3 separate regions of the Homo sapiens genome follow, and regions 2 and 3 are each linked to region 1. The links come from fine-mapping of genetic effects on gene expression. A gene starts in region 1. Each other region holds a variant in brackets. All regions are shown on one strand. Distances are from middle to middle.

Region 1 (10,592 bases):
CAGAGACCTGCTGGTCAGCTCATGAACACTCCCCTGAGTGAAGATAGTTTCCTAAAGAGCTTCTCTTAGACATGAGAGCAAATGGGAAAGTTAAGAGAGTTTCCAAAGTTGGAAGAAAATATTTTCTCATGCCAATGTTTCTAAGAGTCAAATACATTTACTGAAGGTGAAGTGGAAATATTTAGAAAAAAATTAAAAACACAAGTGACTCAGGAAGAGCTGTTAACATGTGAAGAATGAACAATCTCAAGATTCCACAGGCAATCTGGTAGAAACCTCATGAACTTAACCAAAGTGAAATCTTAGAGGACCTCTGATTAAAATGTGGAAAAAATAATAACAATCCAATATTTATGAAAAGGTCCTGGAAAATGTTCTTTGCATGGTAAGAAGGTCACACAAATGTATGTATTAGATTTTATACATGTCATTTTAGCAAAGTTATAAACCAATCAAGTGACATTTACGCAAGAGCATTAAAAATATAATTACTAGAAAGCTTCATGCATTGCTATGGGGCCACAGCTTTCTTTTCACAACATAATTTCATTAAAAACTTGTATGATGAGGATGTATATAACAAGGTTGTCAACAAATGGCTATAAATGTTCTAGCTGATTACTTGGGACTTACTAGAGTTCCTGGAATATTTTGAGATGCCTGAACTGCTGGGTAGCAGAATACATTTTTAACCCCTTCAAATTCCTTCCTCTTCCAATTTGGTGTCTGCTACATCTTTTTGATGTTTTATACATTTGTTTAAGTCCCATGGTTTAATAGCTACTTTTTTCTTAACTATTTTTTGAATATAACATACATACAATAAAAAGGACCCATGTTAAGAGTAGAGGTCAATGAATGTTTTACAGATATGTAAATGTGTGTAACCCCCACCAGATGAAGAAATGAAACATTCCCAGCACCGCAGAAACCTCCCCATATCCCTTGCCATCAATATCCCTATACCTCAATAGCCACTATTCTGACATTTCATTAGATTAGTTTTACCTTCTTTTGCATTCTATATAAATGAAATCCTGCATTATGTCAATATATTAATTGTATTAAAATTTTGCAAACATTGGCATATTGAATTCAAGTGTAAATCCAGATATGAGTTTGTTCAACAAATTCATCTGTATATATTATATTTCTACCCTCTCCTACAAACCATTATAAGAAGTTTTAAAATGCAAATTCTCCCCTTCGAAAACACCCTGCAGCACTAATGCTTATTAGGACTCCTCCCCAGCCCTTCCAACTTAAAAAGTAGGAAGACATAGTGGTTTGAACTATGTAATGTCCAGGGTACAGTCTTTCTAATCAGTGCTGCTAATGCATTTCTTCAAAAAAGTGTTAAAAATAAAACAACAAAAAAGTGGGGGGTTTTTTAGTTACGTATTTCATATCTTAAAACATTTTTTTAAATTTTATTTATTTATTTAAGCAATAGGATGTCACTCTGTCACCCAGGCTGGAGTGCAATGGTGTGATTATAGTTCACTGCAGCCTCAAATTCCTGGATTCAAGCAAACCTCCCGCCCTTAGCCTCCCAAGTCGCTGGGCCTACAGGTGAGTACCATCATATTTAGCTAATTTTAAAATTTTTTACAGAAATGGGGTTTTGCCATCTTGCCCAGGCTGGTCTCGAACTCCTGGGCTCAAGTGATCCTCCCACCTTGGCCTCCCAAAGTGCTGGGATTATAGGCATGAGCCACTGTACCCACTCAAAAGCTACATTATCCAGCCAGTATATTGAGTGGTTTTCAGTGGGAAGAGGTATCTAGTCTGCTTTATTGCTGTAGAAGTCTCACATAATGTTAACATTTCTCCAATCCATCTACTTTTCTTAATTCTCACTGATGATGCATCAGTTCATGCATTTATAATTGCTGGCTCTACCCAAATTCTTCCAGTTGCATTCCCTGCTTCCAGTCTCTACCTTACCTCTTTCTCCACCTCTCATCCCTCTAGGCAAGCTGTATCAACAAGGGTCTCAACAAGAAACAGAATTCACAAGATAGTTCACATGAAAATACTTTAATGAAAGGACAAGTTACAGAGGGGTGAGCGGGTATTAAGGGAACAAACGAGATGATGAGGCACTCAGAGACTAGCTACAGAGGAGGTGTTCAAGAGATAAAAGGAGAACATAAAATCACCAGACAGCCCGGGGAAAACTAGAGCCATGGTGAAAGAGCCATCTGGCAGGTACTGTAGTCATGAAGGAATGAAGCTATTGCTGGACATCTGACACTCAAAGAAGGAAGGAGCAAGGAAGAGATGCCCCAATTTCCCTTTCTACCCACCTTCTGATATCCTTGCCTTGGCCTTCTTTATGTCCAACCACAAAGCAGTCCTTAAAGAAACTGAGGTCAACCCTCAGAGGCATAGAGCTTAGCAAAGAAGGGCAGGAAATGAATCTGGGGGGCAAAGAAAATAACCAGCACATTAGTCTTTCTCCGGACTACTTTGAAAGGCCAGTCATCTAAAATGCAAACCTTCTCATACCTTGCACCCTCTTAAAATCTACCAGTGGATTCACATCATCTGTAGGACTAAATCTAAACTGGGATGTGCGACTTTGCCCCTGCTTATGGCTTCATTCCCCAGTTCCTGTCTTAGCCTACGGCCATTGTGAATTATTTCCAAATTCACCAGCATTCTATGCTCTCACACCTCTGTCCTTTGTCCATATTCTTTTCTCTTCCCAAGGCACCTTTCTGCATCTTCTCTGCTTGGCTAACTTCTTCTACTCAACCTTTGAGAATCAAAGACTTAGCTCTAGAATCACCTCCTTCCAAAAGTTTCCTGAAAAGTTTTTCCAGGTGTTTCTATGACTTCCTTATATAATTCCATCATTATACAGATGCTCCTTGAGTTATGTCCTGATAAACCCATTTTAAGTCAAAAATATATGTTGAAAATGCATTTTACTCTAATAAGCCCATTGTAATGAGAAAAAAATCATAAGTTAAACCATCAGTCAGGAACCATCCATTCTTAGTTGAGCGAGTGTCCTTTCTCCCTTGAGAAGAAGGATGTGCATTTTTGTGCATTTTTATGTTTTTTGTTTTTTTTGTTTCTTTTTCTTTTTTTTTTTTTTGAGGCAGGGTCTTGCTCTGTCTCCCAGGCTGGAATGCAATTGTGTAATCTCAGCTCACTATAACCTCCGCCTCCTGGGCGCAAGCCATCCTCCTGCCTCAGCCTCGTGACTAGCTAGGACTACAGGCGCATGCCACACACCCTGCTAATTTTTCTATTTTTTGTAGAGACGGGGTTTCACCATGTTGCCCAGGCTGGTCTCTAAGTCCTGAGCTCAGGTGATCTGCCTGCCTCGGCCTCCCAAAGTGCTGGGATTACAGGTGTGAGCCACTGCGCCTGGTCCATTTTAGCTGTTACCACAACACCCATCACCATTGCTGGCACATGGTAGGCAATCAATAATAATTTTTTTTCAAATTAATACATGAAAACTATTAGGAAAGAAGTAAAAAAATAACATAGCTATAAAGCTCTTTGAATGTTAGGTTATTGGGAAAAGCTGTGGAAAGCCAAGGATTTTCTTTCTCAAATTTATTTTTAGAATATTTTTTTCTACACAAAAGACCACAGATAAGGCAGAGAAAGATAAGAAAAAGACCACAAGCCCAAGGACTTGGAATTTGAATCATAAAGGTTCATTCTAGACTTGGGCAATATCTAGAACTTCTAGAACAATCAGTTTTCTAGAACATAGAAAAGATATTACCTTGGTGTTAGCTTTAACTCCTGCCAAATAATGCTTTAAATTATTTAAACTTTAAAAAGGTGTGTCAATGTATACATTGCAGGTAAATTCATGTTCCAGTAACTTTTGTTTTCTTTGTATGTTAAAAATCTAACTGTGGAAAACATTCTAGCTTGGTTTGAGAGTCCAATAATACAAAATGCTTTATTTCCTAAAATTGTTTGAGAGAAAACCAAAATGCTACCACACTGCAACAAAATACTAAAGAATTATTTGCTATGTCAGTTGACATATTTTTATTTAGATTTTGCCTAAGATGCCACATGAAGCCTATATAAGACATTCTTTCCCTAAAACTTACATATGTATGTACATATATATATATAATGTTTTACATCCTAAACAGTCTACTTCACGTCTTCACCAAATGTGCAGCAGCGTGATTCACAGGTTCACCACTGGAAAATAGACCTTAAAATTCCGCCAATATTGGGTCAAAGATCTTACACTATAACACATACTACACTGTGGGCACGGATCAACAGACGAGAATACTTTATACAGAAGCTTCTCGACGGAAGAAGGCCTTGGAGTGGGAAATCTAAAGGAGGGGACACACTACATGTCCCAGCACACCTTGCGACGCCCAGCGACCACAATTCCCAGAACGCACTGCTCGTCGCACGCAGGTTTTCCTTGTTGCCGGGGTTTGTAGTTCTTCTCGATCGTGTCAGTTTGTAAGGCGAGGGCGGAAGTTGGATTCCTGGCCTGAGAATATTAGGCGTAGTTTTCCAGTTTTTGGCAAAGCGGAAATACTTAAGGCCCCTGGGTTGACTGGGTTCTTTGTTTTATCTACCGGCTTCTGCTTTACGACAGGTAAGTCACGGAGGGGCTACAATTCCTCGCAGCAGGGCCCCACCTTTTATTTCTGGGAGCGACCTCGTTCTGGTGAGGCTATTTGTCCCTAAGCTCTCGCCGTAGCAGCCGCCGCCCATCCCTCTTTGTGTGCTTTGGAAAGCCGCGGAGCTGGTGGTGGCTACAGTTGGTGTTGGGGGCTTAGGCGAGGGACGTTACCGGGAAGTTGCAGGCGGGAGGACTCTTCCCCATCCAGTCACCTGACAGGTGGGTTGACTGTTCTTCCCTCAAGGCCTCCCTGCCTGTGTTCCACGTCGCAACTCGAAGGGCGGCTTGGCAGTTCCTGCTGACATCCCCGCCCGGCCCAGCTTTGGGGAGGAAAGGCGGGGAGACCTGGGTGCGGTGACTCATTGCGGCCCGGCGAGAGGAGTCCACTCCTTTCCCTTCTCGACCCTCCAGAGGCGGCCTGGGGAGCCTTGAGGCTTGTCCGGCGCCCACTGGCTTCTTCCGGACGCCCTGCCGTGGACCGCGCCCTCTTGGCCGTGACCCCAGGGGAGAAAGTGATTCGTTTTCGCCTTGCCCCATTTTACAAATTAAGGCCATCTCTACTTGCCTTGATAGTGTCTCCCCTCACCTTATGTGTGATGGAAAGCCCCCGAACACGGAGGTTCTAGCACAAAACTCTAGAGACTCTCTTCTCTTGAGTTTTAAGAACGTGAACATGTCGGTCATGGAGGAAGGCTCTGGCTTCTGTGAGGATGAGAGGATTGGTCAGCTGTAGTTCAGCTGGTCAAGACTTTGTTGTTGGGCTTTAAAAATGCGCTTATTTTAATATCAATTAGTGTTGGTATATCTGTTTTACAGTTGACGTTGAACAAAATATAATGTGCCTAGCGTAGCATACAGTTACGTATGGAAGTTCTCTTCACCAGCCGTTTGTATGGAGCTGTTTAGAGGTGTAGAAAGAGTGGAATAAGAAACACGGTCTCTTGCTTTTAGTTTGTTCAAACAAATCTTGGAAGATATTGTGTATATATTTCAGGTCTGCTATGTCAACTTTTCATCCTTTTCGTATGCTTGAAAATTATCAATTCGCTTGCCAGTCTTAATGGAGTTTAGTAGCTGAAATTTCCTTTATCCACTTCTTAGTAGGTGAATTTCTCCTCTTGACTGACTTACCTTTGTTCAGATTTAACAATTGTGCTTTTTAAGAGATTTCCCCTAACCTCTGGAAATACAGTTTTCCAGAGGTTATTCTCCTAGTTTTCTTGATCTAAAGCATTTAATACTTCACTTGTACAGAGACATTGAAAGAGATTGATCATTAGGCAATAAGTCAATCATGTGGAGAAGGTAAGGAGTTCCTGGCTCCTGCCTTATGCTCAGCTGCTAGGCTACTTAAAAAAAAAAAATCCTAATTCATTATTTCTTCCTAAAACTCAAGCTGAAGTAGTGTTTATGCAATTGGTTTTTGAAGCTCAGATTGTAATTGTGTCTACCGTATCCATTATTCATTAGCCAGTGTCAATTGTAATGTTAAGGTCATTCTGCTGGATGTTGTGAAGGCAACAAAAATAACTAAAAAACAGTCCCTGATTTCAAGTACATTACAATCTAATAGGGAACATTTCAGGTATGTCCACAAATAATTGTACTAAAAGTGCCATCAGAGGTATACGTAAGGTGTTATTGTGGAGAAATACAGTCATATGATTTGATAGCTAATGATGGTAACTCCTGCGTTTTGCTTTAGTATTACTACAGCACTTTTAGAACTTACAGGAAAGTTCAGTTTGACCTATTGTTTTTTATCAAGTTTCTATGAATGCAATAGAATTGGTAATAGTTTTGATCTGTGTCATATAGCTTAAGAGCTTCTAAATGCCAAACCATGTCCTCTGTTTTAAGAGCCAGTTTTGACCTTTATCTTGGGTACCTAATATATTGTCATCAAAAACTTTGAGACATTGTGTTCAGTTTGTGTATGCGAACATTAAAGTGCTTACTATGGGCTAGCTACTATGCTCAGCTCTAGGTAATATTTATTATATATATTTGTTTATACATTTTTTAAGTCTTAGTAATAATATATATGCTTCCTTTATTTTATCTTTTAAAAGTTTATTTTTTAGAGACGCTCTGTTGCCCAAGCTGGAGTGCAGTGGCATGATCACGGCTCACTGCAGCCTTGACTTCCTGGGCTCCAGCAATCCTTCCAAGTAGTTGGGACTACAGGCACATGCCACCATGCCGCCTAATTTTTTATTTTTCTTGCCTTTTTTTTTTTTTTTTTTTTTTTTGTAGAGATGGGGTCTTGCTTTGTTGCCCAGGCTGGTCTCAAACTCATGGCCTGAAGCAGTTCTCCCACTTTAGCCTCCCAAAGTAAGCTACTGCCCAGCCCCATTATTTTAAAAGTAAGGTTTTTGTGCTTTTTTGAGATAGCATTGAACTATATGGCCTTTCGGGACAGTTCTCTTCTTGGAACACTAGTTTTTTCAACTGTGCTGCTTTTACTAACATAATGATTATATGTTTCTAAGGTCACAAACATGTCAGACAAAAGTGAATTAAAGGCTGAGTTGGAACGTAAGAAGCAGCGACTGGCCCAAATCAGAGAGGAAAAGAAGAGAAAAGAAGAAGAAAGGAAAAAAAAAGAAGTATGTTTGATTTTTTTGCTTAAATAAACAACATAAAGTAATTGGGTTTTATTTCACATATTTATATATTTACATATAGGTTGGTGCAAAAGTAATCGTGGTTAAAAGTAATGGCAAAAATTATGATTGCTTTTGCACAAACCTAATAATTTCAGGATAGTTAAAAATCTAGCAGTTCTGACTGCAGACATAACACTGTAAGTGAATCTTACTTTAAAGAAGCAAGATATGTGAAAATGACAAAACTGATAAAATATGATTTTTAAAAACAATTTCGTATAGATTGATGCATTTCTAAAATTTGATTTATTAAAGTTCAATTTACAATTTAGTCTCCTAGGAATATATTTATTATAAAGTAAGGCGCATCTGTATTTTTTTTTGTTTTGGGTTTTTTTTTTTTTTTTTGAGACTGGGTCTCACTGTGTCACTCGGACTGGAGTGCAGTGGTTTGAGCACAACTCACTGCAGCCTCAACCTCCCCTGACTCAGGTGATCCTTCCACTTCAGCCTCTGGAGTAGCTGGGCCTACAGGCACATGTCACTATGCTAGGCTAATTTTTGTATTTTTTTGTAGAGACGAGGTTTTGCCATGTTACCCAGGCTGGTCTCGAACTCCTGAACTCAAACAGTCCTCCTGCCTAGGCTTCCCGAAGTGTTGGGATTACAGGCACGAGCCACCACACTCAGTCAAGATGTCTATATTATAATAACTCATAAATATGGTGTATATATATCATAACTTAGTTTGGACTTTGAATTTATCTGAATATTTTGCTAGTCTGAATTGCTAATTTGTCAGAATGGATAATATTAATGGCAAATAAAATATATGTAATAGATGATTTAATTGACTAAGGGATTTGTTCTTATCTCTTATGAGTTAGTCATTGAAATATTTTTACTGAGTAGTAGGTTTGATGGTACCATAAAGGTGGACCAGGTACTTCTTTTGATTTTTTGTATCAAAAATATGCATCACATTATATACAGCAAATGTACATTGGCCCTGAGCTGGAGACATTTTACTTGTTCATGCATTGAAATATACTTTTATCCCTATGGAAACTCTTTAGACATATCAGTGTACTTTTACTACAGATATGTTTTAAATACCTAGTGTAAGGTAGTTTTTCTTGTGTGTCTTTAGGACCAAGTTTTTATATGTGGTAGCCTAAATAATGGCCAAGACTGCCAGAAATCTCTTGGGGACTAAGAGAAAAATAAGTAGTAGAAAAGTTGAAGGTACAATTTATGTGCAGCATTACTATGATGCTGTAAAGGCCTGTAATTGAAGAATTTGCTAGTTTATTCTGAACCTTTCTGTGAGACATTATAAGAGGATTGGAGCTTTACATTAGCTATTAGATTAAAAGCTGACTGGTAGAAGCATGATTCAGGTTGGCAGAGCTATTCCAAAATAATATTTATATCCCTAAACATTTCCGTGCTGAGAGCAAATTTCATTTTTGTTTTCTAATGATGGCCATAACTGGCAAAAATGGGTTCTAAGGGATATCTATTGCATGATTTATACCTAATTTAAAGCTTGTAAAACTTATTGAGTCACACAGACCAATGGGAAAAAACAAAGTTTATAAAAATGTTACAAGAGATAATACAATGGTATTAAACTGTGAGTCTATTAATATATTTTTATCAACAGTGAAGCATCAGCTTGATATTACAACCTGTTTTGTTATTTTGATTAATTTTTCTGATGACTTTTAAGTCAAAATGGCATAGAATATTATGGCTAACAAAATTCACTCCAGACAGTGTCTGAGTAATAGTTGTCTAGGTGGCATAGGGATTTGAGATTTACATAAAAAAAACTTTTCCTTGGAAAGCTTACATTTTACTTGAGAAGTCTTGGATGATCTGAGAGTATTGAGGTTTATCTAGTTTAACCAGCAGATTGTGCTAAAACGATAAATAGCCGAGATAAAAGCTGACAAAAATTTTCATAACAAAATGTTTTGTGCTATGCAAAAGTGAGTTTAATTTTACAAAACACAATCCCAAATAAAATGAAGACTTTATACAGAAGTTTGTGATACTCTTTTTCAACAAATCATATTGTCATTCACTTAAAATTTGTTACCTCTTAAATAATTACACTTTAATTTTTTCATTGTATGTGATATTGTATCTAACCTTTTGTGCCACTTGGGGGAAGTTGTCTATTATTCCTGACCATAGACAGCAATTTCATACTGTAGATAATTCGAAGTTGACTGTACTTCTTGAATTTGTCTGTTAGGAAAATTTTTGTGGAAACTCCTTGATTACATATGAAGATAGAGCAGTTTAGTACATATCATTTGAAGGTTATTTACTAGAACTCTATTGAGAATGATTTTCATTTAATGACTATAAAAAGAACTTAACCTGTACTCAAAACTAAGTTCATGCCTTAAAAGTATACAGTGTTAGCATATTATTTAAAACATTTTTGCAAACAAATTTTTCATACTATATGTAAACATAAGTTTTTAACCTAAACATTTTAGACAGACCAGAAGAAGGAAGCTGTTGCTCCTGTGCAAGAAGAATCAGATCTTGAAAAAAAAAGGAGAGAAGCTGAAGCATTGCTTCAAAGCATGGGGCTAACTCCAGAATCCCCCATTGGTAAGGTTAAGAATATATCCATTTATAAGAGATAGGCATAGATTCTGTTCAGCTCAGACATAGCTGAGTGGATTGACTTGATATATTTTACATATTTTCCTTGTGTCTCTAAAATTATTAATCTTTTATTTGGAATTGTCTTTTTTTCAGATATGCTAGTACATGGTTATTTTATTTGTTCAAAAGAGCTGCAAGAGTAATTATTAACATATACTGAACTACCAATTGACTTCTCTTATTAAATCAGTAATTTATTTCAACAAACATTGGTTAAGCAAGTTTTATGTGCCATACTGTGTTAAGCTCAAAGATAACTAGGATTCCTGATCTGAACTCTATATTCCTTTCTGGAGATTAGCGAGAGATACAATCAGACTTATATTGTTAGAATGCAAAATATATTAGTATTCAAAGGTACAGGAGTGGAAGGATAAGCTTATAGCCTTCTGCTGTTAATGCTAATAAGGGAGATAATTTTGTGGCTTATTTTCGAAGTGATTTGACTTAATCTTATTATTTTTCTGGGTTATTCATTTTGATAACTGTACTAGACCAAAAAAGCTGAAATAGTAGAGGTACACAGGACAATCTAGTTACATATCAGGAACAAATGCTTACTTAAAATAGTTCTGTGCTGGGTGCTATTATGTAGTATTTTAGTTTAACATGGCCTTTATCCTTTAGAGACCTAACATTTTAGGGCTAGTTGGTGGGCTAAT
Region 2 (10,592 bases), 43 kb after region 1:
AAAAATTATTTATTTTCCAGCTCCCCCTCATGAGCTGACTGAAGAAGAAAAGCAACAAATCTTGCACTCTGAGGAATTTTTAAGTTTCTTTGACCATTCTACAAGAATTGTAGAAAGAGCTCTTTCTGAGCAGATTAACATCTTCTTTGACTATAGTGGGAGAGATTTGGAAGACAAAGAAGGGTAATGTTTAGTTGCTAAGATTTTTAGCTTCAATAATGTTAAATTACTTTAAGATTAAGAGTGATAAAAGTTATAACACCATCTTTTTGGGGGGTTTGGTCTTTTTTTGTAGAGAGATTCAAGCAGGTGCTAAACTGTCATTAAATCGACAATTTTTTGACGAACGTTGGTCAAAGCATCGGGTGGTTAGTTGTTTGGATTGGTCATCTCAGGTAAAATATAACAAAATAGGCCGCTCTTAACTCATTTTTAAAATTATAATTAGCAGGTCATTTTATTTTAATTATGGGAATTTTGTATAATAAATCAATATGTGTTATTTAAAATTAATGGATGATGGTTCTAATGTTAACATACTCATCTTATGTACTTTGGAAGAAAGATTAGAAGCATTATTTATATTTAAAATTCAGGACTTTATGATACAGGCCAGTTTTACTAATTTCAGTTGCTCACCAAATCCTTTGTGTAAAATTTGGACACATATTTTAATTAAATGTTTTAACATTAAAACATTTAAAATAATTAACTGTTCTAATTTAAAATTGTACTAATGTCCCAGTAGGCATAATGCTAGAGATGTCTCTCTTGATGAAATGTTAGGTATTTGTATTTGCAGAATAATAATCTGATAAAGACAAATAACTAGGATTATAAAACAGTTCTTATTATGCATAGCATTTCTTTTCTTCTTGATTCTTCTGAGCAGTATCCGGAGTTACTCGTGGCTTCCTATAACAACAATGAAGATGCCCCTCATGAGCCTGATGGTGTGGCCCTTGTATGGAATATGAAATACAAAAAAACTACCCCAGAGTATGTGTTTCACTGCCAGGTATGGTGGTCTTTTAACAGTCTTCGCCTCAAGTTTAAGAATTCATTGATGAATTAAGACAAGTGCCTTTTTTCTTTTCTTGTCAACATAATGATTTCATTGGATTGGCATTTTACTAAACCACTCCATATTTGCAAACAGATGTTAACAGAAAACTGAAGACTTCTCAGTTCAACATGATCTGCCTTTTGTAGCTTTTCTGACATCTCTTATAATGTTTAATCACACCTAAAGTCCTTTGCAGTTGTGATTTTCTGTTATGGTGATTGACTGTATAAAAGGAATCTTTTATAAAATGTCTTTCCTACAGGGAGTTTCCCAGGAACTTATTTGTGAATATACAATTAGATGGTTGGCCCACTGAATTACTTATACATGGCCTGAGGAATTGGAACTAGATGGTTTTAAGTAGAAACATATGGTTGAAGTAGAAAACAGATGCAGATTTTTAAAGCAGATTTAGTAGAAGGTTAGAATTTGCAAGCCTTTTCTGATTGCATAATTTAAAATCTTTTAATAGTGTCTTAATCTTGAGTAAACACTTAACTTGAATTAAACTAGCGTGTACTCTACTGTTAGATTACTGTCAGAGTCTAATGCAGGGCTAGTTATCTTTTTAATACTGTAGTTAACTGAAATAACTTTTTGCTTTCTTTGATAAATTAGTTAAACCTACTTAATAGTAAACAGCCATTGCATTGGACTTTTAAGCAAAAAATATCTTAAAGATATATTTTTATATTTCTGAAACAGTGAAAACTTTTAATTAATTTACTTAGTTGTTTTTATAACCTCTAATACCATACAATGAAGAAAGAAATGTTTCGGATAATAGATTGATTTTTAGAACTTGTCAGGCATTTTCCATTTGAATCTCAAGTATAAAAATCTTACTTATTTGCAGTCAGCTGTGATGTCTGCCACATTTGCAAAATTTCATCCAAATCTTGTTGTTGGTGGTACATATTCAGGCCAAATTGTGCTTTGGGATAACCGTAGCAATAAAAGAACTCCAGTGCAAAGAACTCCACTGTCAGCAGCTGCACACACAGTAAGTAAATAAGGTTATTTCCATTAGGCTTCTGTGCTCCTTCATCCTTAGCTATAATACTTAGTAGTGGCCATCAGAGTCATCTCAGAATGTGCTTCCTTTGGTGTATGAATTCCTCACCATTTAGCAACCAAGAATGAAGGCTATTTTTTTTTTTGGAGATTTATTAGAAACTCATCTCTCTTCTGCGACAACATTTTGTTAATAGCAAACTTCACATTAAGAATACCCACAAGTTATGAGACTCGATAATAAACAGAATGCTTATAATTAGACTAAAAATTTTGTTTTGCTTTTTGGTACAATAATCCCTGAAAACTTTTTTTAATATCTCTAGCACCCTGTATATTGTGTAAATGTTGTTGGAACACAAAATGCTCACAATCTGATTAGCATCTCTACTGATGGAAAAATTTGTTCATGGAGTCTGGACATGCTTTCCCATCCACAGGTGGGTTAAACTTGGGAAACTGAAATTTTGAGGCAAATGTTATGTTTTAAGTGTATGTGTACCTCAACTTATGTTTCTCATAAACTGTTTTATAGTAGTGTTACAACAGCTTATAAGCTGAAACGTGTTTAATATAAGTTTGTTTCATATATATATATTTTACTTTGAAACCTGCTTCATTTAATTTAGATTTATGTAAATAATAAAAGAATTGTTTACAATCAAAGACTAGAAGTTTTTCTACAGAAATTTAAAATTGCAAGTTTACAAACTAATTTTCTCAGGTTTTTCTATGTAGGATAGCATGGAGTTGGTTCATAAACAGTCAAAAGCAGTAGCTGTGACATCTATGTCCTTCCCTGTTGGAGATGTCAACAACTTTGTTGTTGGGAGTGAAGAAGGTTCTGTGTACACAGCATGCCGCCATGGCAGGTAAACCTAAACTGGAATTTGCAATAATTTAAAATTCCTCCTTTAATCCCATTGAAACAAATTGTCTTATTTAAGTAGAAATCTGTCGTAGATCTACTTGTTATTTGTGACAGATTTTTTGTGTTCAGGCACATAAAATTAAAACTTAATACCTTTTTGTATAAAAGATAATTTTGGATTCATGATGTGTTTAGATTTTGTGGGTTGTGGTTTTGTGTGTGTGCATGTACTCACGTAAGTTAGTGATAGGCAGGAACATTCAGTAGTTACAAATACAATATGCACATGCCAATATTGACCTATAGACTTATAAATGAGATTTTCAGCTGTTTCCCCTTTTGATTTATTTGGACTTTAAGCATTAGTTCATTCTCCTGATAATTGTACAGTAATGTCACATACATATTTTAAACTGAGTAATATTTCTCCTTCCGTTCTGTCTGTTTTGAAATTGTCTAGCTGTACCTTATTGCTTCCTTAAAAAAAAATTGAGTGTCCAGATTTCATCTCAAATATAGATCACCTTCACTTCAAAGCTTTTGTTTTAAAAGTAGCCCAGATTGTCTCTCTTAAATGTAGGGTATCTTTGTTTCTATTACACCACTTCAGATATTGGACTTTTGAGGTCTGTTGTCAACAGCATGATGTTTACAGTTCCAAAGGTACTTATTGCTTTAGTAGAGTTACCAAATGTGGATGGAATAACACTCAACAAAGTTAATTCTGATAAGTTATGAGCACAGAGTTAAGTCTGTCAAAATGAAGTCAAGGCCTGATATATAAACCTATAATAAAATGTGTATGTAATTGGTCTACTTATAGGAGACTTCTCTAACATTTTCACTTTTATGAAATTAGCAAAGCTGGAATCAGTGAGATGTTTGAGGGGCATCAAGGACCAATCACTGGCATCCATTGTCATGCAGCTGTTGGAGCAGTAGACTTCTCACATCTTTTTGTCACTTCATCGTTTGACTGGACAGTAAAGCTTTGGACAACTAAGGTATCTAAAATATAGATGTCTGCTATTTGCTCAGGTTTCTGACACAAGGTGGTGATCTAATACTACATAGGAATGATGAAAACCTTTTAAATCATAATTGTTTGCTAATAGATGAAGCCTGCTAGGAAGTTACACAGAGCATGAGTGAACTACTAGATGTTGTAATTTTTATAAAAATATGCTAACAAGTATGGTAACCCTACGCAGAATCAAGGACCAGTCTTCCCACCACTTCAGTCTTTTCGAGCATGTAACTGTTTACCCTGAACTGCACTGGGAAAAAAGCC[C/G]TGAGTATCTCGCATAGCACCTCATACAGTTGTCATTCAGCTCAGCACAAAAGCTATGCATTTGCTCTTTGGAGAGTTTTTAACAGGTTATTCATAACTACAGTGGCTCACAGAGTTGATGGGAAATAGGGAAAAGAGAGAGAGAAACTGATTTACAATAAGTCCTGTATAATATGGCTATATGTAGTAAACTGGAATCCTTAGGAAAGCATTGTGTAAAAGCATGGATGCATATATTTTTTGTTATTCTATGATAAGCAGTTTAAATCATTTATTTTGGTTTTAATAAACTTCAGTATTTTAAAAACCCATTCATGTGATAAAATGATTCTTGATCCTCCAGCAATTCCAGATAAATGTGACATTGTCTTGACCTGTTGAAAGTCTCAAGACAAATCCAAGTAGGCAACATTACCTCCTGTGATAGACTTGTAATTTCATTTAATCTCATTTTATAATTAAAGTGCCTTAACTTTGCTGTCTAGTTTTTCTGCGGTATTAACATTATTGCTGAGAAAATGCATACCCAGCATCTGATTCTATTTAAATTAAATTCTAAGGTGTTTTTTTTTCTGTTTCTATCTGCCTTATCCTAAATATTGACTTTTTAAATAATTCATCATGAGACAAAGTTTAGAGATCTTTGGTTCTTCAGTTTCTGTAAGAAAACCTAATGTAAGAGATGTTCTTCACTATTTTAGTGAACTCCTAGTTATTTATCAAGTGTTGGCCTTAGAAGTCTGGGATGAACTCATTATTCATTCTTGTCCTTTCTTGATGCCTCCTTTCTGTCTGATAATGAAACAGGTTAGAAAACTTTGCCTCTAAAAGCTTGCCTTTTAAAATTGAGCATTTTCAGGTTTGTCATTAGCAGATATAAAAATAGTGTTTACCTGAACTCTAATAAAGGAAACAGATGCTTAACACAGTGTCCAGCAAATAATAGGCACTTACCAATGTTTAGTTTCTCTTTTACCTCTTAATGGGGATCGGACAGAGCCTGAATACATTTAATAAGTCATCTCTTTCCTTTCTTGGATTGTTCTTGAATTTTTATTCTTCTAGTGAAATTTATACAGTGGGAAAAGGTAGAAGAAGATTCTCAAAGCTCACAAGCAAAGAAATGCGTAATCTAGCTAGCACAGGCTGAGCATCCCTAATCTGTAATGCTCCAGAATTCAAAACTCTTTGAGCGCAGGCATGACACTCAAAGGAAACATTCATTGGAGCATGGATTTTTGGATTAGAGATGTATAACCATAAGTATAACACAAATACAGCAGGTCATCAAATAGTGTGTTTTGTCATAAAATTGACAAGAAAAAACATTGGCCGGGCTCAGTGGCTCACTCCTGTAATCCCAGTGCTTTAGGAGGCCGAGGCAGAAGGATTACTTGAGCCCAGGAGTTCAAGACCAGTTTGGGTAACACAAGGAGACCCCATGTTTACAAAAAATTTAAAAATTAGCCATGCATGGTGGTGCGCACCTGTGGTCCTAGCTACTTGGGAGGCTGAGGTGGGAGGATTGCTCAACTGGCATGTCTAAATTGTCCCAGTCTGAATGAGTGTGGGTGTGTCTGAGTGTGCCCTGCGATAGAATAGCATCCTGTCCATGGTGGGTTCTTGTCTTGTGCTCTGACCAGCTGTGACCTTGAACTGGGAAAAGCAAGTTGGAAAATGAATGAATGAATACAAATTGTCGTAAAATAAAAATTTGTAAGATACATAGTAATCATACAAAGGCAAGACAGTTAAAGGATGCAGTATGAAACCGCTCAGTGAGCCTTCCGTCTTTGTCATTGTTTTAGAACTGCCTGGTGATAGGGTGTGCTCCTTACAATTTTCACTTTGCAAAACATTTATTCCTTGATTTAACCCACCACCTCTTCACCAAAAATTGGGTTAATAATTATCTTGTTTTTATGATTCTTTCTCAAATGTGACCGGGCAGGGTGGCTTACGCCTGTAATCTCAGCGCTTTGGGAGTCCAAGGCGGGTGGATCACCTGAGGTCAGGAGTTTGAGACCAGCCCAGCCAACATGGTGAAACCCCGTCTCACTGAAAATACAAAAATGAGCTGGGCATGGTAGCGGGCACCTGTATTCCTAGCTACTCGGGAGGCTGAGGCAGGAGAATCACTTGAACCCAGCAGGAGGTTGCAGCAAGCCGAGATTGTGCCATTGCACTACAGCCTGGGTGACGAGCAAAACTCCACCTGAAAAAGTAATGATAATCTTTCTAAATTGTATGTATAGCTCACATTTTATTTCAGTGCTTAATATTTGAAGTGTTTAGGGTCATTATTTAGAAATTTGATGATGTTTTTATCACCAGATAAATGCCACAGGGATTTAACTCTTGTTTGTATCAATTAGCCTGTGGTAAAACTGGTTTTGTTTTATGTTGTTTTGCTTAACGTCACAGTTTCCAAGAACCTATAAATGATGTTAAGTGAGGACTTACTGTATTCTAAAATCTGAAAAAGTCCAAAATCTCAAATGCTTCTGGTTCCAAGTATTTCAGATAAACCTATAAAACCAAAGCAAGATGCAGAATTGGTGAGATGAAGCCAACTATTTCTCCAAAGGCTTCATACAGCCATGTAAGTTGCTAGATTTTTAGATGTGCTTTCATCTTAGTAATCCCATGTATAGTCACAGGAGACACATTTTTGTTAGATTGTTGGCCAACTTCCTTTTCGGTAATTGAAAGTAATCTTTTTTTTAAAACTTTTATTTTACATTCGAAGGTACAGGTAAAGGATGTGTGGGTTTGTTATGCAGATTATTGTATCACCCAGGTATTAAGCCTACTATCCATTAGTTATTTTTCCTGAGCCTCTCCCTCCTCCCACGCTCACCCTTCGATAGGCCCCAGTATGAGTTGTTCTCCTCTATGTGTCTACATGTATGTTCATTGTTTAGCTCCCATTTATAAGTGAGAACATGTGGTATTTGGTTTTCTGTTCCTGCATTGGTTTGCTAAGGATAATGGCCTCCAGCTTCATCAGTGTCCCCACATAGGACATGATCTCATTCCTTCTTATGGCTTCGTAGTATTCTGTGGTGTATATGTACCACATTTTCTTTATCCCATCTACCATTAATTGGCATTTAGGCTGATTCCATGTCTTTGCTAGTGTCTTTATAATAGAGTGATTGATACTCCTTTGGGTATATACCCAGTAATGGGATTGCCTGGTCAAAAGGTATGTCTGTCTCTGGGTCTTTGAGGAATCACCACACTGTCTTCCATAATGGTTGATACTCCCACCAACAGTGTAAAAACGTTCCTTTTTCTCCACAACCTTGCCAGCATCTTTTTTTTTTTTTTTTTTTTTTTTTTTTTTGCTTTTTAATAATAGTCATTCTGACTGGTGTGAGATGGTATCTCATTGTGGTTTTGATTTGCATTTCTCTAATGATCAGTGATATATGTCTTCTTTTGAGAAATGTTTGTTCATGTCCTTTGCCCTCTTTCTAATGGGGTTGTTTTCTTGTAAATTTAAGTTCCTTATAGATGCCGGATATTAGATCTTCGTCAGATTCATAGATTGTAGAATTTTTCTCCCTTTCTGTAAGTTGTCTGTTTACTCAATAGTTTTTTTTGTTTTTTAGGGGTTTTTTTGTTTTTGTTTTTTGCTGTGTAGAAGCTCTTTAATTGGATCCCATTCGTCAAATTTTGCTTTTGTTGCAATTGCTTTGGGCCTCTTCATCATGAAATTTTTGCCCATGGCTATGTACTGAATGGTATTGTCTAGGTTTTCTTCTAAGTTTTTTGTAGTTTGGGGTTTTACATTTAAGTCTTTAATCCATCTTGAGTTAATTTTTGTATAAGATGTAAGGAAGGGGTCTAGTTTCAGTTTTCTACATATGGCTAGCCAGTTCTCCCAGCACCATTGTTAAACAGGGAATCTATTCCCCATTGCTTGTTTTTTTGTCAGGTTTGTCAAAGATGATGATTGTAGGTGTGCGGTCTTATTTCTGGGTTCCCTATTCTGTTCCCAGTCTGTGTGTGAAAGAATCTTTTATCTATTTCTAGTTTGTTTTTTACTCTCTCAGGGTGTCAGTTTGCCAGCATCCTTTGGCTTTAAATTTGAGGCTTCCATCCTTATATACGTTAATAATAGGATTTGAAAATAAAGAGTTCATCTTGACTAATCAAGGACAGAACTTATCTTGTGATAGCAGACTGATTGATACTTGCTTTTGTGGTACTACACAGCTAGTTGAGGGGCGGTTGATATTTTTATTCTTGTATTTTAATGTGTTTCAACATAGAAGTGCCTTCTGAATAAGAATGACAAGTGGGCATATCTCTTTCTTTGCCAATTAGGCTAGGCATTGCTTCCTTCCTTGGGCCTTATATAGAAGACTCATTTATTCATTCAATTGGGATACATGCCTCTCACCCTGCCCCCAACATCCCTCCAGTGTTACTGTACAAAGGATGGGCCACCATAGAACATGGTGTTTTTATAAATGCCTAAGGACCCTCTGAAACTTTATCAGAAGAATTACCCTTCATTCTAACTTTTCTGCACACAAGTAGTTCTACTCTGTGAAGGGTAGAGAAGAAACAGTCTGTTAAGTGAATACTTTTATATTTGGCCATACTGTGGCTCCAGTGTCAATTTACACTTCCTGGTTAATTGTGTTGCTGGTATTTATTTCTGCCCTGCTGAAAAACTGATAGAGCCTCTATGCTGTAATAATGACTGATGGGCAATGTTAATTAATAATGAATGGTAAAGAATAATAGGCAGTGTTTTTAAATAATCTCTCTTTAAACACCTTGTTCCAATTTCATTTTAAACTTTTAAACCAGAGTCTTCACACTCATGAATTTAACAGACTTTAAATGTTTTGCTTCTCTTCCTCTACTTTTTAAGTGCTCTTTGACTCCAGGAATTGAGTCCTCATAAATTGGAAGACTGAATCGTGAGATATTGCTGTACTTTTGTGTCCTTAAGATCTGGCTCTGCCCTGATAGCAAAACAAGATTTCTTCCTTTTCTCTCTTTCTATGATAAAAATCCCTGGGAATCTCAATTTGGCACAGCCTCAAATTTAGTTTAAAGCAATCTACTTCTACAGCTAGCCACTAATCTTCGCCTAGCCAGAGATTTATAATTCAGTCACATAGTTCTGGTTCATTGACTTGTTTTCATTACTTTATTGAACTCAACTATTTTTAAGACAGGCTGAGCACCCTAATCTGAAAATTCAAAGTCTGAAATGCTCCAGAATTCAAAACTTTTTGACCACTAATGTGACACTCAAAGGAAATGTTCATTGAAGCATTTCACATTTCATATTAGGAACGCTCAACCATAAGTATAATGCAGGTATTCAAAAATCCAAAAATATTTGAAATCTGAAACACTTCTGGTTCCAAGCATTTCTGATAAGGGATATTCAACCTGTATAGAAGACAAACAGATTATTTTCCGTGTATGGAAGTTTAAACCAGTAAAGACAGGGCTTCTAATATATTTAAAAGACTCTGTTGCCATCTCAAAATACCAAATTTTAAATTCACAACCGAAGCACTTTGGCAGGTCTGAAAAATGGCTGGGAGAATAAGGAGTGAAAGCTTCTGCAGGGTAACAAGGATTCTAGAAGAGTTTGATTATGGGTAGACCTGGTAGATTCACTAAATGTTCTACCACATTTAACCATACTTGTTACAGATTACTGTTAAAACATAAGAATTATTTACTTGGGACAAGATGGATTTTGAGATGTGTGCACAAATTCTTATCAGAACCATATTTACCATAAAATGACGAAGTTAAGATTGTTAATGTGGTAATTTCTTGGAAGGGGGAGTTTTCACACTTTTGTAGTCCATACACATCTTGAAATTATTCACACTTTCTGATAAGTCTTAGAACCCCTCCTTATATTAATAGCTTACTTAGTTAACTCTCAGAGGGCACCAGCATTAAAACAGGGTTAAAAGTTCATACTAGTCCTTAGAATAACAACTATGCATATTTAGACAAGTTAAGATGAAAAAATGCTTTGAAGTTGGGTGTTCTTAGGGAAGGCTGCCTATTCATCTGGACCGAGGCCTGCGCAGCAGCATTTGCCTCAGTAACTTGCTACTGGCCAATGTCCAGCCTCTCCTTTGCATATTCAGAAACTCAGTTTAATCAGTATACTAGAGTTGATTAGACAGGGAGTGCTAACCGGAACTAACAGGCTCCTAAGACACTGGTACATTGGAGAATGTCAATTTATTAATTTACAATGAAAAACATAACTGCCAGAAGGCCCAGATACTCCTGTGAGCCTGACCAGCTCATTGTTTCCCTGTAGACAATCCACATGGGAAGCCAAATTATAA
Region 3 (10,592 bases), 360 kb after region 1:
GCGGGATTTCGCCATGTTGGCCAGGCTGGTCTCGAACTCCTGACCTCGTGATCTGCCCACCTTGGCCTCTCAGAGTGCTGGGATTACAGGCGTGAGCCACTGCACCCAGCCAAAACTTTTTTTTGTTTTATTTTGTTTTGAGACAGAGTCTCGCCCTGTCGCCCAGGCTGGAGTGCAACTGCCTGCCGGGTTCAAGCGATTCTTCTGCCTCAGCCTCCTGAGTAGCTGGGATTACAGGCGCTCGCCATCACGCCCGGCTAATTTTTGTATTTTCAGTAGAGACGGGGTTTCACCATGTTGGCCAGGCTGGTCTCGAACTCCTGACCTCGTGATCCACCCACCTCAGCCTCCCAAAGTGCTGGGATTACAGGCGTGAGCCACTGCGCCCGGCCGAAAACTTTTTATTAGTGAGAAAAGTTTTAAGGATTTCAGTTAAACCAGGATTATAGCTTAACTTTAAGGATTTCATTTTACCCCTTTCTCTACTTTTACCTATATTTAAAAATATTAAAAAGTCCGTTTTTTTCTGTCAACTATATGGCATAGTGATTTTCTTCCAGACTAGTAGGTGGAGTCGGAAGTAGTATTCTGAAACATGTGGAGGAAACTACATCAGGAGAGCATTTGCCCCAAGGGAGCAATAGTGAGAGGATTCCCCACACTCTCTTCGAAAATTTTAAGACATACTGCTACTCCCAGGGGGAGATCAAACTAAATACACAGCGTTTTAGGAACTAGAGATATACAGAGTCCTTGTTCAGCGGAGTGGCAGATTTGTTTTAAGTTTATTTTTGTTCAAAGTTTTTGATCTCTTTTACTGTTACAAGACTAGGGGAAATATCGTAATCGATTGTGCTATTTGCTTTGATACATTCAGGCCCTCTTTTTTTTTTTTTTTTTTGAGATGGAGTCTCGCTCTCTCTCCCAGGTTAGAGTGCAGTGGCACAACCTCGGCTCACTGCAGCCTCTGCCTCCCGGGTTCAAGCAATTTTCCTGCCTCAGCCTCCTGAGTAGCTGGGATTACAGGCGCACACCACCACGCCCGGCTAACTTGTGTATTTTTAGTAGAGACGCCCGGCTAACTTGTGTATTTTTAGTTTCACCATGATGGCCAGGATGGTCTCAATCTCTTGACCTTGTGATCCGCCCGCCTCGGCCTCCCAAAGTGCTGGGATTACAGGCGTGAGCCACCACACCTGGCCCATTCAGGCCCTCTTGTACCTGATAGCCACAGTATACAAGAACTGAAGGAGTCTGAGGCCCCCCAAAAGCATATTATATAAAGCAAAAACAAACAAACAAAAAACCCACTTAAGGCTGGATGCGGTGGCTCATTCCTGTAATCGCAGCACTTGGGGAGGACGAGGTGGGTGGACCATGAGGTCAGGAGTTCAAGACCAGCCTGGCCAATATGGTGAATCCCTGTCTCTACTAAAAATACAAAAATTAGCTGGGCGTGGTGGTGTGCACCTATAGTCCCAGCTACGTGGGAGGCTGAGGCATAAGAATCGCTTGAATCCAGGAGGCGGAGGTTTCAGTGAGCCGATATCGTGCCACTGCACTCCAGCCTGGGTGACAGCGCAAGACTCTGTATCAAAAAAAAAAAAAAAGAATCCACTTAAATGCTCATCATTGGTTAAATAAGGTGTTGTGTGACCTGTCCGTAAAGGAATTCATGAAACAACTAAAAAAGATCATGTAGATCTATATTGTTTTGTTAGAGACAGGACCCCTAACACTGAAGACTGGTTGCCCCCAACTCAAGCCAGATACATAATTCAAAACCAAACAAAACTAAGCTTTAAATAAGTAAATACAGAATAAGAATATAAAAACGTTTTAATTTCCTTACTCTAATTATTTTATATATATATATATATATATATATATATATATATATATATTTCATCCCCCAAAAGAAATGACCTAATATATATATAGTTTTTTTTTTTTTTAAGATGGAGTCTTACTCTGTTTCCCAGGCTGGAGTGCAGTGATGCCATGTCAACTCACTGCAACCTCCGCCTCCCACATTCAAGCAATTCTCCTGCCTCAGCCTCCCCAGTAGCTGGGATTACAGGTGCCCACCACTATGCCCAGCTAATTTTTGTATTTTTAGTAGAGATGGGGTTTCACCATGTTAGCCAGGCTTGTCTTGAACTCCTGCCCACAAGTGATCTACCTGCCTCGGCCTTCCAAAGTGCTGGGATTACAGGCATAAGCCACTGTGCCTGGCCAGAAATATATATTTTTTCATTTTAAAAAATATATGTATATATACATATGTATGTGTACATGTGTACACATATACATATGTATGTGTACATGTGTACACATATACATATGTATGTGTACATGTGTACACATATACATATGTATGTGTACATGTGTACACATATACATATATACATATATACATATGTATGTGTACATGTGTACATATATACATATATACATATGTATGTGTACATGTGTACATATATACATATATACATATGTATGTGTACATGTGTACATATATACATATATACATATATACATATGTATGTGTACATGTGTACATATATACATATGTATGTGTACATGCGTACATATATACATATATACATATGTGTGTGTACATGTGTACATATATACATATATACATATGTATGTGTACATGTGTACATATATACATATATGTGTGTATGTGTACATGTGCACATATATACATATATGTGTGTATGTGTACATGTGCACATATATACATATATGTGTGTATGTGTACACATATACATATGTGTGTATGTGTATATGTGTACACATATACGTGTGTATGTGTATATGTGTACACATATACGTGTGTGTGTGTATATGTGTACACATATACGTGTGTGTGTGTATATGTACACATATACGTGTGTGTGTATATGTACACATATACGTGTGTGTGTGTATATGTACACATATACGTGTGTGTGTATATGTACACATATACGTGTGTGTGTATATATGTACATATATGTGTATGTGTGTAAATATGTACATATATGTGTATGTGTACATATGTATACATATATGCGTACATGTGTATACACGTATGCGTACCTGTGTATATATATGCGTACATGTGCATACATATGTGTGCGTGTGTACACATATATGTGTATGTGTACACATATATGTGTATATGTGTACACGTGTACACATATATGTGTATATATATACGTGTGTGTGTACATATATTTACATACATATATATATATATATATATATTTTTTGGGATACAGGATCTCACTTTGTTCCCCAGGCTGGTCTCAAACTCCTGAGCTCAAGCAATCTTCCCATCTCAGCCTCCCAAGTAGCTGGGATTATAGGCACCCAGCTATGAGAAATATTTTAAATATCAGATCCTTACAAAAAAAATAGTATTCTTTTATTGGAACTTCACTTGGTTTGCACTTCCAACACCTGTTAGTTTATCCAGTCAGGCACTCCATATTTGGAAGGAAGGAGGATAATATTTGGGGAGAGGAAAGGTAAGAGAGGGGTGAGTTGGCAGTGATGGAAAGCAAAGTCAACCCCACTTGGTCACGACTCACTAACCTCCAATGGAGAAAGTGTGTGAGTCTGCATGTATGTTTGATTTTTGATACATGAAAGAACATAAAAATATGACATTAGACTATTATACTTCAATTTTTAAAACTTAAGTTTTTTAAAGAAAAGTACGTTTAATGTTTTACAAAAATTATTTTATTTATATTTAATAGCATTATATTCCATTATAAAAATTTCATTTATTGTAGCAACCAAGGAGTTAAAAAAAACCAAGGATAGACAAATAACAAGAAATGTACAAGGCCTGTATGGAGAAAACATTAGATCTCCAGTGATGGACATTTAAGAACACTGTAGGAAATGTGAAGGCATTTCTTATCTTAAAGAAGACGTTAAATATTTTAGAGTCAACTGGACATGGTGGCTCACGCCTGTAATTCCAGCACTGTGGGAGACCAAGGCAGGAGGATCACTTGAATCCAGGAGTTTGAGACTAGCCTGGGCAACATAGTGAGACCCTGTCTCTGCAAAATAAAAAAAAATATTGGGCATGGTGGCATGTGCCTGTAGTCCCAGCTACTTGGGAGGCTGAGGCAGGAGGATTGCTTGAGCCCAGGAAGTTAAAACTGCAGTGGGCTATGATTGCACCACTGCACTTCGTCTGGGTGACAGAGCAAGACCCTGTCCCCCCAAAAAATTATAGTCATATTGTCCTTAGATTAATCCATAAATTCAATGTAAACCCAATTTTGTGGCCAAAAACACTTTAAATATGGTGGAAATACAAAAAGCAAGCTGAAAAGATAGTTGAAACAGTGTAGTACACACATTTAATATTTGTAATTCACAGAATACTCTTAAAAATAAGTCAGGTGGGCTGGGCACGGTGGCTCACACCTGTAATCTCAGCACTTTGGGAGGCCGAGGCAGGTGGATCACGAGGTCATGAGATCAAGACCATCCTGGCAAACATGGTGAAACCCTGTCTCTCTTAAAAATACAAAAAAAAAAAAAAAAAAAAAACCCAAAACAAACAAAAAACCTAGCTGGGCGTGGTGGCATGCACCTGTAATCCCAGCTACTTAGGAGGCTGAGGCAGGAGAATCGCTTGAACCTGGGAGGCAGAGGTGGCAGTGAGCCGAGATCGTGCCACTGCACTCCAGCTTGGTGATAGAGCGAGACTCTGTCTAAAAAATAAAAATAAAATAAGTCAGGTGAAGAGGCTGGGCGTGGTGGCTCACGCCTATAATCCCAGCAATTTGGGAAGCCGAGGAGGGTGGATCACTTGAAGTCAGGAGTTCGAGACCAGCCTGGTCAACATGGCGAAACCCCATTTCTACTTAAAATACAAAATTAGCTGGTCGTGGTGGCACATGCCTGTAATCCCAGTTACTTGGGAAGCTGAGGCAGGAGAATTCTTGAACCTGGATGATGGAGGTCATGCCACTGCACTCCAGCCTGGGTGACAGAACGAGACTTTATCTCAAAAAAAATAAATAAATAAATAAATCAGGTGAAAAACAACCCAAGAGACCTAATAGGAGACTTCACAAAAGAGGATACAGAAATAAACAAAGGAAAATATCTTTAACCTCAGGAGTATCTGAAGAAAAATAAGTAAAAGTGAGATACAGTTTTTCATTTATCAGACTAACAGATTTTAACATTAAACTGTTGGTAAAGGTATAGGAAATAGGCATCATTAGGAAGACAAGTTGCAGTGTTTGTGAACAGTTTTGCAAATATGTTAAAGTTTGCATATTTCTTAACCCACAAATACTACTTTTACACATTTAAACTAAAAAGAAGTCATCACTTGTGCAACTGTACTTGTAAAAAACACATTATATAAAGCAAAAAAATCAAACCAAAACAAAAAGGACCTACCAAAATGCTCATCATTGTTTAAATAAGGTACTATGTGATCCCTTCGTATAAGGGAATGCTCCAAAACCACTAAAAAGGATCCTATATAAGCCGGGCGCGGTGGCTCACCCCTGTAATCCCAGCACTTTGAGAGGCCGAGGCGGGCAGATCACTTGAGGTTGGGAGTTCAAGACCAGCCTGACCAACATGGAGAAACCCCGTCTCTACTAAAAAATATAAAATTAGCCGGGCGTGGTGGCGCACGCCTCTAATCCCAGCTACTCGGTAGGCTGAGGCAGGAGAATCACTTGAGCCTGGGAGGTGGAGGTTGCGGTGAGCCGAGATTGTGCCATTGCACTCCAGCCTGGGCAACAAGAGTGAAACTCCGTCTCAGGAAAAAAAAAAAAAAAAAAAGGATCATTCATATATATGTGTGTGTGTGTGTGTGTGTGTGTGTGTGTGTATATATATGTGTATATATGTATATATGTGTGTATATATGTATATATGTGTATGTATATGTATATATGTGTGTGTGTGT[GTGTGTGTGTA/G]TATATATATATATATATATATATATATATATATATATATATATGACGGAATTCTTTAGTGGTGATTTGTGAGATTTTGGTGCACCTATGCTGCTGTGTATTTTTATACATACGATAAGCCTGACCCTACTCTTGGGGCTCAGCCTCATTTAGAGCTGGGCTTCCCAAATTTTATTTTTTTTTTCTGGAATCAAAAAAGTTTCAAAGATTGCCATGTAATGCTTTTTATTTTTTTTAATTACACTTTGGTATCTCAGAAATCTCTTTCTGTGAGTGTTTACTTCGATTCTGAAAATAGAGCTAGGGTCTTGAAGTGGTTTCTGAATAAATGATGAAACATATGTTCAAAGTCTGTAACTCTTCCTTCTCCTTAACCACATCCTAGATAATCCACTGATGGAAAGTGTCATTTGTGTGAATAGATTCTCTAGTTTTAGTTTTCAAGGACTTTTTTTTTCATTTTAGCTGTCTGGATGATTAATGTGACTAGGAAAATACTGTTGACCCATTTAAATCATGTCAGACAACATCCATTGCTCATCTACATAATGAAATACACACTGAACATTACAGCTTAAGTGTGGGAGGCAGTGAACTACAAAATAATGTTTTAGTCATTTAGATTATGAAATAAAATATAAGATATTAGGACTAACTATAGCATTAAATATTAAACTCTTCAAATGGTAATTGTCAGTAAAAACAACTTTTAAACCAAAACAACTAGTAGCATTTCTGCTTTAGTAGTTAATTAGAGGAAGTGGAGGTGGTTGCATGCAACAGTATTAATTTAAGAAAAGTCTTTATGTGAAAGTGTCTGTTAATATTACTTGACTATTATGGGACTTACTGTAAATAGTTGAGTTTTTCAGTTAATCAGTGGTTGTGAAATAATAGTTTTCTGACAAAATTAGAAAAATTTGTTTGACATTTTTATCATAGTTTCATTAAACGGTCTCCGCATAATTTTAAAGATAACTAATTTATAGCTGAAACTATTTCAATCAATGATCTAATAACAAAGATAAGCTTTGACAGCTTTAAAAATATTTAAATTTTGTAAGGACATCATTTGCACAGTGATTAAATAAATGCAAAATTTAAAGGTACTGAATTTAGGCTATCAGGTTTCCATGGTTACACCTTTCCAAGTTATTTTGTGTATTGTGTAAATAGGTCTGTGAGTCACTGGTAATTATTTGTTTTTTTGTTTGTTCTGTTGGTAATTCTGTGTTTAGCTGAATTTAATACAGTTCACACGGCGTGCTTTGGTTTATGTATATTTTAGTGTTTGTGATTGACAGTGATTGAGCATTTCTTATGGAGTGCTTGCCTTTTTTGTCATAAGTGATGTATGTTGGTAGTGCTTGAAATGTAAATAAGTTCTTCCTGTATCACTGTTTAATAAACAGGAATTTTTATGCAAAGAAGACTTCTTGATACATTTAAACAATAAGGTTTGTTGAGCTCTGAAATATTTCTGCTAAACAGATTGTGCACCAAGACAAATAGGTTTAAATTCTTACAAACTGAGGTTACCAAGGGCAACGTTAAAGTTTATGGCTAAGCACAGCATTGACTGAATGGTATTTAGTAACAGAATAAAAAAGGCTGAATTCTTTTTTTTTTTTGAGACAGGGTCTCACTTTGTTGCCCAGGCTGGAATGCAGTGGTGCAATCTCCACTCACTACAGCCTCAGCCTCCTGGGCTCAAGTCATCCTCCCACCTCAGTCTTCTGAGTAGCTGGGACTACAGGAGCATGCCACCACGCCTGGCTAATTTTTGTATTTTTCATAGAGATGCGGTTTCACCATGTTGCCCCAGGCTGGCCTTGAACTCCTGAGCTCAAAGGATCCGCACACCTCGGCCTCCCAAAGTGCTCAGATTATAGGCGTGAGCCACTGCGCTCAGCCAAAATAGCAGCATTCTGATCTAACTCTTAAAATTGTTTGTGATAGTACACTTTACAGGGAATGTCTTCAATGCAAAGTAGAATCTTCCTATAACATAATTTCTCCCATCCCACCCTTTGCACAAATTTAAGAAGTATTCTTATATGTTTAGAAAGATATGATTCTTGAAAAAAGCCAGGGCCTTTTATGGATGTAGGAAGGAATTTTCCTTAGACCTCACCATTAACCATCAGCATACTAGCAAGGGCCCAGCAGGAACTCTCAGGAAAACATCAAAATTAGGCTGTCCGTAATTCATCCTACTGAGTGTGAGCCTTCTCTCATACACTACAATCATGAAATGCTGTCCAGTTTGTAAAGTGTTTCTACATCTGCAGTCTCATTTGGGGTTCAGGTTGGCCCTGTGATGGAGTGAGGAGAGGCCCAGTGCTTTGGATGGTGTCACTTTTAAGTAGCAGCTCTGGGACCCAACCTAGGATCTCATGATTACTTTGTGAATTACTTGCTTTGTGGATTATCCAAGGCACATTTTAAAATTCAGGCTGGTTTCTACCTACTGATTAGTCCATTTTAGAGTGACCTCCTCCCACAGTCAGGTAACCAATGATAGTAATTACCATTTATTGAGTGCTTACCTTATGCCACTTTCGATATATCATGTCATACAATTATCATAGCAACCCTGTGAGGAAGGTATTATTATCCACATTAACAAATGAAGAAACTAAGGCTTAAAGAATTTAACTAACTTGTTTAAGTAAACCAATAGTACTCAGAGAAGGAAAACCAATTTAAACAAGAGCTCAAGTGAATATAAATAGGAAGGCATATCTTTTGGAGGAAATTCTCATGGTGCATTCACAAGCAAAATATAAAATTTTAAATTTCACACTGTTTCCTTCTTTTTTACCCCCAAATTGACTATACCTTATTAGGCATTGAAGAGTTGAGGTTTCTTTGTAACACTCCAGTAGAAGCATACTTCAAAAAGTGTCCCATCCCCTCAGACAATAAATATGTTTCAAATGTTTTACACATCAAATATTTTGGTATTGTGGCAATATTAAAAACTTTAAATATGAGATGATGAATTTGTCATTTTACTGTGTGAATAATCTTGGTGTTGGCTAAGGTTTTCAAGTAATGTGTTTTCAGATATGAGAAGCAAGCAGCCTGCTATATACAGATAAAGAGTACATGTTTTTTTGGTGGTTGGGGTGGTTTTAATTTTTAACGTTTTTAAATTTTTATTTTATTTTAACTTTTTTAAGGCAGGGTTTCGCTCTGTTGCCTAGGCTGAAGTGCAGCAGCGCAATCTTGGCTCACTGCAACCTCTGCCTCCTGGGCTCAAACGGTCTTCCCACCCCAACCTCCCAAGTAGCTGGGACTACAGTTGTGTGCCACCATGCCTGGCTAATGTTTGTATTTTTTGTAGAAACAAGGTTTCACCATGTTTCCCAGGCTGGTCTCAAATTCCTGGACTCAAGCGATTCACAGGCCTTAGTCTCCCAAAGTGCTGGGTTTATAGGCGTCAGCCTGGCTTAATTTTTAATCTTTAGTACAAAAAGTAACAGATAGTTGAACATTCATATCCTTAAATATATAAGTATATATATTTAAATAAATGTTTATTTATATTTATGTTTACTTATATACATATATTTACTTATATACATATTTATATTTATGTTTACTTATATACATATACACACACATACACATATATATGGGCCAAATTGTAAGCAGGCATCTATGGAGCTCCCCTTTTAAGCCTGTGCCATTTTAACACTTTGTACTTTTTGAATTAATACCAAAAACTGTCGAGTGAGTATTCATATGGTCAACCAGGTATACCTAGTAGAATTGAGTGTAAAATTATTTGGGCAACATAACTATACCAGTCCAAAAAGCTGCCTTCAGAAAATTTGGAGCTTTTGCTTTTACTAAAGAGGTTACTGTATACTTTCTCTTTATTTTTCTGGTTGAAAATAACTCCTTGATGAGTGATCTTGGCTTCTGTTGTCTTGAATCTGTGTACTCTCAACTGCAGAAGCTTGGAAATATATTGTTTTCCTGAAGCATTAGCTTTCTCATTTTAGGTAGTAATTATTGACCTATCTACCTACCGATTTACCACTCCTATTGACTGGTTACAGGGCAGAGACAAAACTCCTACAGTTGTCAAAATACCACGATAAGATTGATATTCAAATGTTTTCTTTCTATCCCATGCCTTTCACTTAGAGATGTACAGTGAAAATCTTCTCAGGAAGTTTAAGATGTAGGGTTTTTTGTTTTTTGTCTTATTTGTTTTTGATATTGATACTACAATTTTGGTCAAAGCTCTGAGCTATTTCATCCCAATGGTTTGCTTGTGTGGCAATAACTTTCAATGGCCCATTGAAAAGAAAAAAGGAAAGAAAGACATCCAGCAATATACCTAGGGCATGCTGTATCTAGAATTCAGTTGACACTATTGTAATATGAAGACTAAAATCATGCTCTTTTCAAATGCTTTAATGTAATTTAAAAATATATTAAAGCTGTGCTTTTGATCATAGATTATAAGCCCTCATATCTTCTGTTATTGGGCATTTTAATACAAAATAACTAATATTTTAAGTAGTATATGACAGTAGTATTTATGAATAGTCTGGAGGTTTTTTTAAGAATTAAAGAAGGATTTTGTTACTATATCAGTTTTTTTTTAAAAAACTCATG

Direction of the effects. Positions count from the first base shown, and alleles are read on the strand shown. Sizes are in standard deviations (SD) of each study's normalised expression. Not every link is listed here.
For the expression in monocytes after triphosphate RNA of the gene that starts at base 4,448 in region 1, allele GTGTGTGTGTA in region 3 goes with a lower level than allele G (large effect, 2.2 SD a copy in Kim-Hellmuth 2017).

What was found. PIP is the estimated chance that this variant, and not a neighbour inherited with it, causes the effect.
Region 2: its variant is fine-mapped to the expression of DYNC1I2 in blood mononuclear cells (TOPMed, PIP 0.94).
Region 3: its variant is fine-mapped to the expression of DYNC1I2 in monocytes after triphosphate RNA (Kim-Hellmuth 2017, PIP 0.95).

The regions. Positions count from the first base shown.
Region 1 is chr2:171,683,022-171,693,613 of GRCh38, forward strand. DYNC1I2 (dynein cytoplasmic 1 intermediate chain 2) reads left to right here and starts at 4,448. Exons shown (of 18, transcript NM_001378.3): 1 at 4,448-4,606; 2 at 7,126-7,242; 3 at 9,756-9,873. The coding sequence starts at 7,135. RefSeq lists an enhancer at 4,449-4,618.
Region 2 is chr2:171,725,899-171,736,490 of GRCh38, forward strand. DYNC1I2 (dynein cytoplasmic 1 intermediate chain 2) reads left to right here. Exons shown (of 18, transcript NM_001378.3): 9 at 21-183; 10 at 296-395; 11 at 893-1,018; 12 at 1,923-2,069; 13 at 2,407-2,520; 14 at 2,819-2,952; 15 at 3,811-3,955. Among named protein-coding and RNA genes, the nearest start is that of DYNC1I2, 44 kb to the left of the region's middle. The variant C/G (reference allele first, on the strand shown) is at 4,243.
Region 3 is chr2:172,039,864-172,050,455 of GRCh38, forward strand. The region is part of intron 1 of METAP1D (methionyl aminopeptidase type 1D, mitochondrial); the gene reads left to right. Among named protein-coding and RNA genes, the nearest start is that of DLX1, 40 kb to the right of the region's middle. The variant GTGTGTGTGTA/G (reference allele first, on the strand shown) is at 5,948.